3 separate regions of the Homo sapiens genome follow, and all the other regions are linked to region 2. Evidence: fine-mapped expression QTL. A gene starts in region 2. Each other region holds a variant in brackets. All regions are shown on one strand. Distances are between the middles of the regions. Region 1 overlaps JAKMIP3 (Janus kinase and microtubule interacting protein 3). Region 2 holds the start of DPYSL4 (dihydropyrimidinase like 4). Region 3 overlaps LOC105378565 (a long non-coding RNA gene).

What was found. PIP is the estimated chance that this variant, and not a neighbour inherited with it, causes the effect. A credible set is the group of variants that fine-mapping cannot tell apart.
Region 1: its variant is the best candidate, but not a certain one, in a credible set for the expression of DPYSL4 in whole blood (TOPMed, PIP 0.57).
Region 3: its variant is the best candidate, but not a certain one, in a credible set for the expression of DPYSL4 in amygdala (GTEx, PIP 0.55).

Annotation. Positions count from the first base shown.
Region 1 is chr10:132,156,437-132,161,583 of GRCh38, forward strand. All of the region lies in intron 19 of JAKMIP3 (Janus kinase and microtubule interacting protein 3), which reads left to right. Among named protein-coding and RNA genes, the nearest start is that of JAKMIP3-AS1, 28 kb to the right of the region's middle. The variant A/T (reference allele first, on the strand shown) is at 2,167.
Region 2 is chr10:132,183,976-132,189,211 of GRCh38, forward strand. DPYSL4 (dihydropyrimidinase like 4) reads left to right here and starts at 2,973. Exons shown (of 14, transcript NM_006426.3): 1 at 2,973-3,127. The coding sequence starts at 3,089. JAKMIP3 (Janus kinase and microtubule interacting protein 3) reads left to right here. Exons shown (of 24, transcript NM_001323087.2): 24 at 1-883. JAKMIP3-AS1 (JAKMIP3 antisense RNA 1) reads right to left here and starts at 2,777. Exons shown (of 4, transcript NR_184044.1): 1 at 990-2,777; 2 at 222-347. RefSeq lists an enhancer at 3,692-4,193.
Region 3 is chr10:131,855,593-131,860,828 of GRCh38, forward strand. LOC105378565 (a long non-coding RNA gene) reads right to left here. Exons shown (of 2, transcript XR_946487.4): 2 at 5,070-5,236. Among named protein-coding and RNA genes, the nearest start is that of PPP2R2D, 43 kb to the right of the region's middle. The variant A/C (reference allele first, on the strand shown) is at 3,020.

The DNA.
Region 1 (5,147 bases), 28 kb before region 2:
GCAGGCATCTCCACTGCTGTGCAGCCACCACCACAGCAGGCCGGGAGACAGAGGACCCCACCCAGCCTTCGCTGCTGCTGTTCCATCTGCCTGGGGCGCCCTCCCTTTCCTTCTCCTGCCCATCCCTGATTGACACTGCAAGCCTCAGTTTGGTACCTCGTCTCCTCTAGGAAACCTTCCCTGACCCCCAGTGAGGTGGCCCTGACATGCCCCACTCATGGAAGTGGTTCTGCCTTTCTATGGGGCAAGCAGGGACCATGTGCATCTGCTGCCATCTGGTCTCCTAGACCAGCACGAGGCCTGGCAGGCAGCAGGTGCTTTGCGGGTGATGCATAGGTGAAGAGGAAAAGAGCTAAGGATTATGCGGAGGTTTTTAAATCCAGCCCACCTTGAGACAGGAGAGGGAAGAGAAGGACATGCATTTCTTTTTTTAATATTGCATTTTTTTTCTGAATGAAAGAATAATCAATGTATAGTTCTGATTTACAACACAGAAAAATCCAAGAAAAAAGTTCACTACGTGCCCAGCACACAGAGAAAGACTGTGGGCATTCTGGTTTCTCTCCTGATGGTCTCTTGGCAGGATGGGGATACACATAGTATCTTTGCAAAAGCGCGGTCCCCATGCTTATCTGAGGCTTGTTCTCCGAGAGATGGTCATCATGCCAATGGTAGGAAATGTTCACAGTAGAAAAGGACATTTTCTTCCCGTTCCTGTTCTCTGGACTCCAGATGCCACCAACAAAGGGGACCCCACTTGCTGGTTCTCTTCTCCTTCTCTGAAGTGCGGGGTGTAACCACATGTGTGCGCACGTGCATTTTCATGGATAGCCTGAGAAACCCACCAGCTGCAGCATGCTTCCCTTTCACCTGACTGTGCACAGCCAGGGCGCTTCCCACCAGCCCAAGGAGTGACTTGGTGTGAGCGCATCATGGACTGTTCATCCCCAGTAGTGGACTTAGGTACTGTCCATGCATTAGCTATCACCAGCAAAACAGCAATTCCTATCCATTTCTGACGTCCCGACACACAAATGGAGATTATCTGCAGGAAAAGTTATTTGGAATGACCAAAGGGTATGCACACTTAAGGTGTTGTTAGGAACTGCCGAATATTTCTCCCCATAGTAGGTATAACTTGCAGCCCAAACTTCCACTGCATGATATGCAGCCGCCTGGTGCAGTCCTAGCAGGCATGTCTCTGGTGAGCTCAAAGTCTAACATGTTTCTATGCAACTCCACGCCACGTCTGTTTGTAACCTTTCCCACCTCTCTCATGCTATCTGACATTTTGGTCAGAGCTCTTGATAAAAGAAGGCAACCAGCCCTTTGCCATCCATTGCAAATATTTCCTTTATTTCCTTAGTCAGAAGAATGGGACATGGCAAATATTTCACCCAGCTTGTTGTTGCTCTTTGATATCAAACACTGTTTTGAGGGCCTGGCAGAATTTGGGTAATTTTTACGAGGTTGATGGCCTCCAGGTTTTATGGCATAATTTCAACTTCGTACAGAAAAAAAAAAGAGATTGTACAAAAAAATTCCAGTGTTTTCTTTCAGCATTACTTTGAGGTGTGTGTGAGGCAGGTGTAAAGAGGAAATGGAAATTTATGCACCTCCAGGATGGCTGCCCACCGCCCCCCCGCCCCGCCCCGCCCCGCCCCGCCCCCGGCAGCATCTGTCTACTCAGCCATCCACCTTTTCCACCCTAACGTCACAGATAATTCCCCTTTGTAAGATTGTGTCTGGAGTGATGCCTCAGTCCCAGAATCCCTCCACTGGGTCGGGAGAGTTGTCCCATGAGTGGAGAAGTGGCCTATGGGCCCCCTTGACCTGACCAGAATGCAGGATCTGAGCATAGAGAGCTCCAGGAGTGGGGGCCCTGGCCCAGAGCAACTGCCACCATGGTCCTTGTGATCAAACATCCCATGGACACCCCATGGGATTAGAGATGTAGGTCTCCACACACATTTCCAGAAGATCAAAGCCCAGCTTCAGCTTTCTGTGAGGCCACCTCTCTCTGCCACCTCCACAGTAGCTGTGTTCTCAGACCTCAGATGGGGCCAACTGCTCAGGGGATCATTCAGCCCCAAAGACCAGTGGGGAGGCACATGGTTGCTGGTTGGGCCAGGATTAATGGCCCCTACTCTGGAGGGGACTGGGGGC[A/T]TCCTCCTGTGAGATGCTGTGGGAGGAGCATCTTCCTGTGAGATGCTGTGGGAGGGGCATCTTCCTGTGTGATGCTGTGGGAGGGGCATCTTCCTGTGTGATGCTGTGGGAGGGGCATCTTCCTGTGTGATGCTGTGGGAGGGGCATCTTCCTGTGTGATGCTGTGGGAGGGGCATCTTCCTGTGTGATGCTGTGGGAGGGGCATCTTCCTGTGTGATGCTGTGGGAGGGGCATCTTCCTGTGTGATGCTGTGGGAGGGGCATCTTCCTGTGTGATGCTGTGGGAGGGGCATCTTCCTGTGTGATGCTGTGGGAGGGGCATCTTCCTTTGTGATGCTGGGGGGGGGGACCTCTCGCTGTGTGATGCTGGGGGGGATCTCTCGCTGTGTGATGCTGGGGGGGGGCCTCTCCCTGTGTGATGCTGGGGGGGGTCTCTTCCTGTGTGATGTCAGAGGGCCCTCTCCCTGTGTGACGCTGGGGTTGTGTCTTCCCGTGTGATTCTGGGGGCGTCTCTCCCCGTGTGATTCTGGGGGCGTCTCTCCTTGTGTGATGTTGTGGGGGTATCTCTTCCTGTGTGATGTTGTGGGGGCATCTCTCCCTGTGTGATGCTGTGGGGGCATCTCTCCCTGTGTGATGCTGGGGGGGCCTCTCCCTGTGTGATGTCGGGGGCACCTCTTCCTCTGTGATGCTGGGGGCGCCTCTCCCTGTGTGATGCTGAGGGCGCCTCTCCCTGTGTGATGCTGAGGGGGCCTCTCCCTGTGTGATGCTGGTTGGGGGGGGTCTATTCCTGTGTCTTACTGAGGGGGCCTATTCCTGTGGATGCCGGGGGTGTGTTTTTTCTGCGTGATGCTGGGTGGGGGGGCTCTCTTCCTGTGTAATGCTGGAGGAGGCTCTCCCTGTGTGATGCTGGGGGTGTGTCTTCCTGTGTGATGCTGGGAGGGTCTCTCCCTGTGTGATGCTGGGGGGGCGTGTCTCCCTGTGTGATGCTGGGGGCATGTCTTCCTATGTGATGCTGGGGGTCCTCTTCCTTTGTGATGCTGGGGGGCCTCTCCCTGTGTGATGCTGGGGGGTCCTCTCCCTATGTGATGCTCAGGGGGCCTCTCCCTGTGTGATGCTGGGGGCATGTCTTCCTGTGTGATACTGGGGGGGCCTCTTCCTGTGTGATACTGGGGGGTCTCTTCCTGTGTGATGCTGGGGGGCCTCTCGCTGTGTGATGCTGGGGGGCCTCTCCCTGTGTGATGCTGGGGGGCCTCTCCCTGTGTGATGCTGGGGGGGTCTCTTCCTGTGTGATGCTGGGGGGTCTCTTCCTGTGTGATGCTGGGGGGGGGTCTCCCTGTGTGATGCTGGGGGGGCCTCTTCCTGTGTGATGCTGGTGGGGGTCTACTTCTATGTCTTACTGGGGGGGGCCTCTCCCTGTGTGATGCTGGGGAGCCTCTTCCTGTGTGATGCAGGCGGTGGCCTCTTCCTGTGTGATGCTGGGGGGGTCTCTTCCTGTGTGATGCAGGCGGTGGCCTCTTCCTGTGTGATGCTGGGGGGGGTCTCTTCCTGTGTGATGCTAGGGGGTCTCTTCCTGTGTGATGCTGGGTGGGCCTCTCCCTGTGTGATGCTGGGTGGGCCTCTCCCTGTGTGATGCTGGGGGGGGCCTCTCACTGTGTGATGCTGGGGGGGCCTCTTCCTGTGTGATGCTGGGGGGGGTCTATTCCTGTGTCTTATTGAGGGGGCCTCTCCCTGTGTGATGCTGGGGAGCCTCTTCCTGTGTGATGCTGGGGGGGGTCTATTCCTGTGTCTTATTGAGGGGGCCTCTCCCTGTGTGATGCTGGGGAGCCTCTTCCTGTGTGATGCTGGGGGGGTCTCTTCCTGTGTGATGCTGGGGGACCTCTCCCTGTGTGATGCTGGGGGGGCCTCTCCCTGTGTGATGCTGGGGGGGCCTCTCCCTGTGTGATGCTGGGGGGGTCTCTTCCTGTGTGATGCTGGGGGGTCTCTTCCTGTGTGATGCTGGGGGGGGGGTCTCCCTGTGTGATGCTGGGGGGGGCCTCTTCCTGTGTGATGCTGGTGGGGGTCTACTTCTATGTCTTACTGGGGGGGGCCTCTCCCTGTGTGATGCTGGGGGGGCCTCTCCCTGTGTGATGCTGGGGGGGTCTCTTCCTGTGTGATGCTGGGGGGTCTCTTCCTGTGTGATGCTGGGGGGGGGGTCTCCCTGTGTGATGCTGGGGGGGGCCTCTTCCTGTGTGATGCTGGTGGGGGTCTACTTCTATGTCTTACTGGGGGGGGCCTCTCCCTGTGTGATGCAGGCGGTGGCCTCTTCCTGTGTGATGCTAGGGGGTCTCTTCCTGTGTGATGCTGGGTGGGCCTCTCCCTGTGTGATGCTGGGTGGGCCTCTCCCTGTGTGATGCTGGGGGGGGCCTCTCACTGTGTGATGCTGGGGGGGCCTCTTCCTGTGTGATGCTGGGGGCGTGTCTTTCTGTGTGATGCTGGGGGGGCCTCTTCCTGTGTGATGCTGGGGGGGGTCTATTCCTGTGTCTTATTGAGGGGGCCTCTCCCTGTGTGATGCTGGGGAGCCTCTTCCTGTGTGATGCTGGGGGGTCTCTTCCTGTGTGATGCTGGGGGACCTCTCCCTGTGTGATGCTGGGGGGGCCTCTCCCTGTGTGATGCTGGGGGGGCCTCTCCCTGTGTGATGCTGGGGTGGTCTCTCCCTGTGTGATGCTGGGGTGGTCTCTCCCTGTGTGATGTTGGGGGGGCGGTCTCCCTGTGTGATGCTGGGGGGGCCTCTTCCTGTGTGATGCTGGGGGGGGTCTATTCCTGTGTCTTACTGGGGGGGGCCTCTCCCTGTGTGATGCTGGGGAGCCTCTTCCTGTGTGATGCAGGCGGTGGCCTCTTCCTGTGTGATGCTGGGGGGGTCTCTTCCTGTGTGATGCTGGGGGGCCTCTCCCTGTGTGATGCTGGGGGGGGTCTCTCCCTGTGTGATGCTGGGGGGTATCTCTC
Region 2 (5,236 bases):
TCTAACAGGGGAAGTCTGTATGAATGCATCACCCCCTAATAAGGCAAGAGGAAGGACCCTGAAATGTTGCCAGAAATGTACTGTTACATCAACATTTACATTATATTAACATCATCACACTCTGTGTTCAACACACAGAACAACATAGATACTTTAGTTTGTCTAAAGTAAAAATCCACATAAATAGCAGATTCCTTTGTTGACACCAGTGTGTTGTTTACCTTGTGCCCATGGTCCAGATTTTGAGCTGGAGAAGGACTATGGCTGTTCCTTAAAGTCTCTGCCCTTGCAGAATCTGTAGCCTTCAGGATACCCCGAGTGCCTTACAGGGCTTGTGAACACCGATACTAGAAGTCAAAAAGAAGAGAGTGCCCAAGTGTGGGTTTGGAGGCACTGACGCATTCGCCAACTCACCGTCATCCCATCCTTGAAACCCTGAGAGAGAGTGTGTGTTTTATCACAGTAATGGAATTCAGTTTAGCCTCAGGAAACTCATATTGTGAATATAGGTATCAAATCATATATTTGTTTACTGTATATTTTTTAAAAAGCTTTATTGTAAATTTATGCAAAAACTAACCGGGCCTGTTTTCTTACGGCGGCATGCCAGGTAGTGTGTGTATTCTCCCAGGCACTCCCTTCATAGTCACCCTCTAACCACGTGACATTCCGTTCCATGCTAAGCAGTATTCACAGGCCTAAAATAGGTTTGTATGGTGATCTACAAGATTTTACAAATATTTTTGTATTGTGATTCCTATGATATATACCAGAGAATTTTTTACTCGTTTGTAAATTATTGTACAGTTTTAATAAAAAATGTTTTAAATCTTAGACGATTAAAGTCCCCTCAAAGGTATTAAAGTTTGAACTGAAAGCCGTATGAGCCATTTCTGCACTTCTGAGTTCATTCTCTGAACAGTGCCTCTGCACACCAGAAACGGAGTCCGCGCCTTCCGCCCACTGTGGAGGAAAGCCCCAGTTCTCACCTGCGAGATCACCTGGAGGGCAAGCTCTGCAGTCGGGTGCCTGGCAGCACCTGGCTCCGGTCGACCACCTGGGAGGCTCCCTCCTGTGGCTGTTGGTCAAATGTGAACCATGGAAGAGATCAGACAGTTAGGAAAGGGACGGAACTTCTGCACGTGCATAAGAACAGTTGGTGATATTTGCCGTGGACGGTCCCACACAGGTGAGTAACAGACATTGCATTAATCATTTAGGGGAGGGGGAGCCCAGAGGAGGACGAAGGGGTGGGAAGCTGCTGGACCTAGCTCTGCTGGCTCGGGCCCCGCCAGTACTCGAGGTCATGGTGACTCAGTGGCCAAACTCTGGCTTTGAAATGCGGACTGCGGTAACAACGCAAAGGCCTGAAGTCTCTGGGTTCGAATTCAGCTGCTGCAGGCTGGGTAGAATGACAGATGGAGTGACAGCATCGCCCGTCACTCCTGTCTCGCCCCAAGCCTCTAACTCGGCTTTAAGGGAGATCAGCAGCAGTTTGCGTGGGCGGGTACACCCCACCCCCGCGCGCCCTCCACACTCGCCCAGGGTTTCGGAGTCAGGGCTTTCTTGTCTGGCGTGGGACGGCCCAAGGGGCCTGGAAATGTGGCCGGGATTCCCACAGCGGTTTCTCCGGTGCGCGCTCCCCGCCCGGCCTTCCCAGCGCCCAGTGTGTCCCGAGGGCGAGCAGCCACGCGTGGCCGGGACTAAGCGAGCACCCAGGGGCCAGAATGGGGCGTTCAGCACCCGCTACGTGGACAGAGCCAGCTCCGCGCAGCGCTGCCGGGCGGCAGGAGGCGGGGGGGGAGGGCGCGGCCTCCAGGTCCGCCCAGTGCACCTGCCGCGCAGACCTCGCTACAGGAGGCTCCGAGACCGGATTCTGTCGCCCGCTCCTGCCGTGACCGCGCGGCAGCCTCAGGAGCCCGCGAGGCCTCTGGCCCGGCCCAAGCTTGGCTGCGTGTTCCGCTGCGTGGAGGACGCCTTCGAGAGCAAGACGCTGCCGCTGGACGCTCTGGGCGGCGGCCGCCCGGGCCCTCGGGTTGGGAGGCGAGTCTGCGCGGCGCGCGGAGACCCCTCAACGGCCGCAGCAAGTCCCCGAGGGCAGCCCGGCGTGGCCCAGGCCCGGGACCCCCAGCAGGTAGTGGCCGCGGGACAGAGGCCGTGGGCCCGGGCTCGGACTCCCCGAGACCCTCGCACCCGGAGGACGCCGGGCGTGGGGCTCCCCCGCTCCCCCCTGCGGGGTCCTCCCTATCCGTAAAGGTCCTGAGCCTTCTGGGTCCTGCGACCACCCCCCACCCCCGCGAGGTCCCGCCCACCACCGCGTCCCGGTCCCTGGGGAGCGCGTGCGCCTCCTTCTGTCTCTCTCTCTCTCTCTCTCTGTCCTATTCGGGCCCCTCCTGCCCTCCGTCTCTCGCGGCCAGCGTGGAACAGCCTCGCGGGGTCACAGCCTGGCGCTCGGACCCTGGCCCGGGTCATCTGCGAAGGAGCCGGCTTTGGCCAAGGTGCCTTCCTGGACGGGTGTGGTTCCCAGAGCGTCGCGGCCCGGGGTTGACTGGCTCGGAATCCCGGGGCCTTGGGCGCCTCGCGTCTCCTGGGACCTGGGTTCCGCGCTGGAGGGCAGCGGGGGCGCGGGCGGGGCCTGGCAGGACGTGGCCGGACTCTCTCCCTCGCCTCCCCGGGGTGCAAACCCCGCGCACATCAGCTGGAGCAGGTTGAAATCCCCACCCAGCGCTCGTCCGCGGGTCTGCGCGGGGGCCCGGGGTGCAGAGATCAGACCCTGCAGCGGTTCCAGCGCTGGGGGGGCTTTAAAGCGAAGGAGTGGCTGAGGGCGGGGGCGGGGCTGATGGGCGGGGTGAGGCGGGGCTCGGGCTGGGGCGGGCCCTATCGGGGGCGGGGCCTGCCGGGGGCGGAGCCGGGGTGGGGGCGGGGCCCAGCGGGGGCGGGACCGGAACGGAGCCGTGCGGCCCCGCGCGCTCGCAGTCTGTCTCCCGCCGTCCCCACGCACGCGTCCCGGCTCACGCGTCCCCCCGCCCGCCCGCCCGCCCGCCCGCCCCCGCTTGTGCCGCCCCTACCAGAGACCCCCAGGAGCAGGATGTCCTTCCAGGGCAAGAAAAGCATCCCCCGGATCACGGTGAGCCCGGTCCCGCTTCGCCCGGCGCCCCCTGCCCGCCGCCCGGAGTGGGGCCTGGACGCCGGGCGGACCCTCCTGGTCTTGTGCGTGGGTGGGGGGTCCCTGCCTTTGCGTCTGGTCCCTGTCCTGGCGCCCGCCCTTCCCTGCTCGGCTCCTTCGCGCCCCAGGGTCCGAGAGTCCCCGCTAGCGCCGCGCAGACCCCCTTAAGGAGCGGGGCGCCCAGGCCCGGCCCGGCCCGGCCCTGCCCGGCCCTGCCGGGCCCTGCCGGGCCCTGCCCGGCCTTGCCCGGCCTTGCCGGCTTCCGGGAGCCTCGGCTGCGCCCGGGGAGAACCCGGGGCCGGGCGGCCTGTCCCTCGGAGCGCTAGCGGCTCCTTTCTCCCACGGCGGTCGGGTGGCGAGGCGGGCGGACGCGGCCCTTTGTTGGCCCGGGCTGGTCCGGGGCGCGGGGAGATGCCGTTCCCGGCGCAGCCCGTGGGTCGCCCGCCCCTTGGACGCACTGGCGCTGCGTCGGGAGCTCTTTGTCCGAGACAAAGCGATTTAGCCCCGGCCGCTCTGGCCGGAGTCCCTGGTGGCCCCGAACCCTTCCAGTAACCTGGGTTCAGCGACTCCAAGGAAAGCGAGCGGTCAAGGGCCACTGGCCGGGAACCCTGGCAGCCCCTGAACCTTCGAGAGCAGAGACCCCTCCCCAACACCCACACGCACCGGCGCGGGAGGTCCCGCTCTGCCAGAAACAAAGCCTCCCCGCTCGGGCGGGGGGAGATGGGGGTGGGAGGAAGGAGGCTTCGGGACCCGGCAGGACCTGGGCGGGGGAGTCCATGGGGTCCCAGACCCGACTCTGGACTTGGCCTCGGCGGGAGGGCCGTGGGGTCTGACCTCTGGCATTAGCTCGAGCCGTGGGCTGTGGGCTCCACTCCCCCAGACTCTGAGCGAGGAAGGAGCCCTCCCCTCTCCAGATGGGAGGGGCTGCTGCCTCCAGAGGGTTCTGCCCGGCTGGGTCTGGTCTTGATGCAGGAGGTCTTGCCAGTCAGCTGGCATGTGGGGGTCGAGTTTGGGGGTGGCAGGAGGACCCCTTCCCAGGGGAGGTCAGGCAACCATGTCAGTGCGGAGGGGCAGCTGCTTCCCGGGAACTTTCACCTCCATCCGGATGAGTGCAGTAAGAAGAGCACAGCCCCACACCCCAGCTGCGTCTCCTCTGGGTTCCAAACCCAGTCTCAGTGCGGGTGCCTGAACACTTGGGCGCCTATGAGCAGAGAGCCCAGACCACACGTCTCCTCAAGCCTCCTTCTGCCCGGTTGCGTTTTCTAGGGCTTCCTTGAAAATGCGTGGGTCCCCTGGGAGGGGTGGAAAGTGAAGAAGAGGGACAGCACCGGGAAGGCAGCCAGGGCCTGATGCGGCCACAGAGGCTCTGCAAATGCATGGTGGTGCCGGGTCAGGGCTGAGCCTGGCGCTCAGCTGGGACTGGGCAGGAGGAGGAGAGGTGCAGCGGCTGGGAACAGACAGCTCTGTAGACCAAGGGTCTAAAACTTCTTCCACAACCAGCCCGAGAGTAAATGTTGTCAGCTTTGCGGACCACGCTGTTCCTGTCTCAGCTGCTTGGCCCTGCCAGGAAAGCAGTCCTGGACATTTAGGAAGTCGATGGGCACCACTGTGTTCCAACAAAACTTCATCTGTGGATGCTGCAGTGTGAACTTCATAGAATTTTTGAGTCATGACATACTCTTGTTATTGTTTTCAGTGAATATACAAGAACGATTCTTAGCCTAGGGCTGTATGAAGAGAGGTAGAGGGTTGGGTCTGGCCTGTGGCATAGTCTGCCAACCGTTTGTAGACTATGGGGTAGAGGTTGACAAGTCACTGGGATCCTGAAAATACAGCCCCACAGTTAGATGTCAGCAGTGAATCCTGTAATGGAGTTCCTAGATAATGAACTCCTTCTCATTCTGAGAGTTTTACCAATTGTGCACTTCAGTTTAATGCTCTTGGCTTCAGACTGACGGTGCGTGAAGGCTCTAGCCCCAGGCTAGGGCCCTGGCCACCTATGGGTGGGCCCTGGAAACCCAGAGCAGGCGGCCGGACCTCCCTGTTAAATGCAGACGGTCAGTCCTGCCG
Region 3 (5,236 bases), 330 kb before region 2:
GACTGGGGTCACTGCTTGCTTGCTGGCTGTCAGCCAGGCCCACACCCAGGTCAGCGTGTCTCCTCTATCTTCAGAGTCACCCAGCCCAGCCCCAGAGGAATCCTCCCGGGCCAGATCCCTCCCATTTTGAACCCCAGCTGCCCAGAATTTCAAGGCCCCATTAAGGACTCACCTGACCAGCTCAGGGCCCAGCACATGCCCCCATTGAAGGTTCACTGAGCAAGGGCCCTCATTACACCTGCAGAATCCCTCCCCAGCAGCCTCTGGACTGTGGTGATTGGATGACAGGGGGAAGGTGTGTGCCCTGCAAGGACGGGCACCTGGGGGCCAGTTTAAAAGTCTGCCTTCCCAGGGCTATGGGGAAGACGAGCGGAGGCCCATTCAGGGCTGACACAGCATTTCTGGGACAGCCAGCACCTCCGGACGCTGGCCTTGGCAGAGCCCATGCCCTGGACCAGGCCCATCCATGGCCCGCCTGTCCCCAGGGAGTGGCTCCTCCCTCCAGGACCCCGAGGCCTGTCCTGTCAGTGCCCATCCCTGCACAGAGACCAAAGCACCCTTCATGCTGAAAGCCCATTCCCACAGCCACGCCTCCCAGAAGCACAGAAGCTGCAGCGGCAGGAGCCAGCGGTGCCCCTGGTGCTCTGGGGCAGAAGCCAACAGCGAACAGCACAGGTGGGTGGAATCGGTGGTGGGGTAGAGCCCAGGAGGGTGAGGCTGGACCCCCTGGAAATGCAGGTGCGGGCATCTCCACCGGGGAAATCAAGAGCTGTGACCGGCTGTGCCCACCCTGGCGGAGCGTGTGACTGGCAGTGTCTTTGGGCACATCTTTGGGTGTCTGTAACCCCAGAGGGACACTCTGAATGTCACCGACCCCCAACATTCCTGCCCTGGAAAGTCAGGAGCGGGCGAGGTGTCGCCCTCACAGGCTGGAGCAGGAGGGCCCATGGTCACAGCTGTGCCCAGGTCGGGGTGGTGCCTCCTGAGGAGGGAAAGGAGCAAAGGCTTCCCGGGAGTGTGAGGAACAGCCTCCAGAACCCCAGGGACTTTCCAGGCAGGGAGCAGGTGCGAAGGCCCTGGGGCCCTACAACGTGCAGGCTACAGAAGGCTGGGCAGCCAGCCTGGGGGAGGAGGGAGCAGAGAGGGGAGGGAAATCAATCAGAGGAGCGGGGTGGGCGGGGGAGGCTGGGCAGGGCCCTGTGGGCCTTCAAAGCTTTGGCTTTAGGCCGAGTCTGAGATGGGAGCCTCAGGAGGGTGTTGAGCCCCGGAGTGACCTGAACTCTGCCCCGCGGGCAGCTGCGTGGAGATGGCCTGGGTGGGGGCCCATGCTGCGTATTGTTCAGTTAATGACCCTTAAACCACACTCACAGCCCCAATACTGGTGGGGTAGGCAGAGCACAGCTATGGTGGCCCCAGAGTAAGCTCCATGGCAGAAGAATCCAGAAGGAAAAGCTCAGATTCCCAGAGGCAAGCAGGCGGAAGACACTCCAGAGACGCCTCAGAACTTAGAGAGGCCAGTGGAGATTGGCCAGTAGAGGTCTGTGAGCCAGAAACCCGTCAGGGCAGGCGTGAGCTCAGATCAATGCCTCGGGCAGCCACAGGGAGAGAGAAGCCAGCAGAACACGTGGAGATGGGCAGCAGGAGTGCAGCGGCCCCAGGTGCGGCCAGGCCCAGCCAGGGAGACAGTGGATCTCACCTGGCCTTGGGCGCCGGGCACAGCCCTGGTGTTTTGTTTGGTGGTGCCGATGCGCGTTTCCTGTGGCACTGGAACTAACCGCCACGTACTTTGGTGGCTCACAGCAGCACAGGCATCTTTCTTCACACCCCAGGGGTCCGTACGGAGTGAAACAGGGCTCTCTGGGCTAAAGTCCAGGTGCTGGCAGGGCTGGTTCCTTCTAGAGGATCCAGGGGAGAATCCCTTCTCTCGCCCCTTCCAGCTTCTAGAAGGAAGCTGCCTCCGTCCTCAGAGCCAGCAGCATCCAGCCCAGCCCTCACATTGCCCTCCCTGGCTCTGAGCCCCTCGGCTTCTCCACGCTCCTCCCCGTCGGGTAAGGTCAGCTGATGAGCATATTGAGCCCCTCACGGCACCCCCCATGGCCCCCCATAGCCTAGCATATCTATAGGTCCTGTAGTGGGACAGCAGCATCCTTGGGGACATGATTCTGCCAACTCCAGTGGTACTCTCCAGTCTGGTGTGGAGGAAGAGATGGAGGAGAAGCCTGGGTGCACGCCTGGGGCAGGATATGGACCCAGCATGGCCAGAAGAAGCAAGTCAAACTGAGGCCGTGGACCTGCAGGGCACATGAGTCGGGGGTGCTGAGGGGTGAAGCCATGGCCTTTTCTGAGAAGTCCATGCAGATGCGTAAACCGGAGACTCATCCGGGGCGGCCCTGGGCACCCCCATCCCGAACAGGTCTCTTAGTATAGTTCATTGTCAGCGTGCAGTGGTTCAGAGCCTGCCTCTGACTGAGGCGGCTGCCCAGGGCCACAGGGCAAGGGGCGGGGGGGCGGGGACAGGACCCTGAGTCCTCATGAGGCCATGCTGAGTTGGTTGGCAGCACCCAGGGGAGTGACTGTGGAGGTCCCATCCCCATCTGGTCCTCAGGCAGGGGCAGCACAGCCTTCAGCCACAGCCCACTCCAAAGCCAGCACCACGATCTCTAAAGCCTGGGACAGGAGGCCAGCCTCAGCCGCCACCGTGCCACCCGAGAACAGGAGCGAGGACCAACGTTCCCGGCTCTCATTCACACCCAGACAAAGGATGCTGGTGTTGACGGATGGAGCCACGGAGTGGGAGGAAGCTGTCTCAACAGATTTGGCCCTGCTGCAAACCCATCAGGAGGCTCTAAGCCGGTTTCAGGATGAGACAATACTGCGCCCCATTTCCTCCCCAAGGGCCTGGAGTGACTTCAGAGAATCAAATGCATGGTGAGTGGGTGGAGTAGGGGGAACAGGGACCTTCCTGATAGCTGTTCAAGTCCAAGGAATGCTGAGCAGGAGAGATGTGGGGCAAATTTTT[A/C]GAGAGAATGTTTCTGAAGCGTGTGGTCATGATGCCGCAACCCCTGAGTGACGGCGGGAGGCGTGATGGGTCTTAGATCCATACAGGTTCGACGGCCCCTCGGCAGTGCGGCCCCTCAGCAGTGGGGCCAAAGCGCCATTGCCGGCAGCCGGTCGGGAGGAGGGTGAAAGAGAAATCCTGGCTGCACACAGAAGGCACCAACTGTTTGCTCATCGCAGAGCAGGGCAGTGGTGCCCAGGAGGGCGGGGCATCGGATACTGAAACACGAGCAGGTTTCCGGCATCGAGACTGGGGCTGGAGACTTCAGGAAACCTCATTTTCTTCCCCAAACATCCACCCTTTTCTTTAAAGTAGGCCAAAGGCCTCCGTTTCACGCTGTGTGAGCCAGGCGTGTCAAGCCACAGCGGTCGAGGCGGGTGTTTCTCAGGGCAGGCTTTAAAGGTGCTCGGGCCCTTCGGCCGGCGCCCTCTGCAGGCAGGGCAAAGGGTGGGGCCATGGGGTCCCTGCAAAGATCAGGCTAAGGCGACTCCACCGCACTGGAAGGGAAACTGAAGCCCTCCCAGGGTCACCTGCTGGACGGCAGCAGAGAACGTGGGAGACCCACATGGCCAGGAGGAGGGTGGCAACACCAAAAACGTAGTTTTGAGGGAGGACATGAAGCAGCAGTCAGCTGTGCAGAGTTTCTTCCTCAGAGTCTTGGGGATGAATCAGGACCGGCCAGTGGGGACAGCTGAGTATGTCTCAGGTCATCCACAGGGATGCTGTCCAGGCTGGTCCAGAATTGGCTCAGCCTCTCATCTCGCTAAAAATCCTCCAGTGGGGAGGGCACCAGGGGCTTGGGATGGAATCTTCCCATCAGAACAGCTTTCAGCCTAGGTGGTTGACGGAGTCTGGGGAGAGGTATGCAGGTAGCGATGCCCACTCAGCCTCACAAGTCACAGCAACGAGGCACTGCAATGAGTCACTGCAACGAGTCACTGCAAACTCCATCCCTTTTTTAGGACTTCAGCTCCTCATGAAATGGCTCAAGAACCAGAATTTTAGAGACATTTTTTTCCCAGTGTGACTGTCTTGGAAAGCAGTTTCATGAACAAGCCTTTTTCTGGGCCCAGGACCCTCCCAGTGACCTGGTGGACAGAACCAGTTCTCTTTGGCCACCAGGCTGTCTCCTAAAGTAACTAGAGCCTGGGGACCTTGATACAGTCGCCTCGTTCCACAGCAGTCTGATAGCCAGTCACACCTGCACGACTCCCATGGAGCTGACAAATTGCTTTGGTCTGGGGATCCCCAGCCACTGAATACTGGCCATCTTTACCTGCATAGGAACCTGGTCCCTAGACACCCAGTCACCTTTGCTGGGCTTGACTTGCAGCCTCCACACCACAGCTACGTCCTGACTGCTGGGAGCAGGAGCCTGTTTTGTTCTCTTCACCAGCCATTTGTGTCTCCTGTTCCGTGGGATGCCTTTCCATATTCTCTGCTTTACTATTGATGTCTTTTTATCATGGTGTCAGAACGCTTTAATATAAGAGATATTCACTTTTTGTTTAAAATTTTTGTTTAAATGTTGCAAAATGTACCAGAAGCAAATAATCGAAGGGGGAAATTTTGCACCTCATAAGACAAAGTCTGATTCCCTTTATGGCTTTTAGATATCCCGTCTTATGGGAGAAGCTCTCTCCCATCCCAAGGGTATAGAATGCTATCTTTAGGTATCTTTTAATATTTTCACACTTTACATCCAACTCTTCATTCTCGATGGGGTTTATTTTTATGCATGGTGCGATACAGGATTCTGGATCTTTCCTTCATCGCCCATCATGCCAGCACCTTCTGTTATACAAGCCCCCAGTTCCCGCTGAGCTGCCTGAAATTCCCCTGGAACTTGGACCCACTCCAGGCAGCTCTTCTTGCATGTTCCTGGGGCCAAAACCATGCCGTCAGGATTCCATCGGCTCTGTTGGGATCTAAGTATCTGATAAGGTGTGATTCCTGGCTCACTGTTCTTTAGAAAACATTCTCAACTATTTTCAGACACTATTCCTCGATGTGAATTTAAATACTTCTTTTTATTTCAAAAAAGAAAATGGAAAACATCTCTTTAGAAATTCTATTTAGGTGGCATCCCGTTCACACATCCATAGGGGAAGGACTGAGGTTTTCATGACACTACCTCGTTCACCTGTGACCTCCCTGCATTTCTGCAGGTGTTGCTCT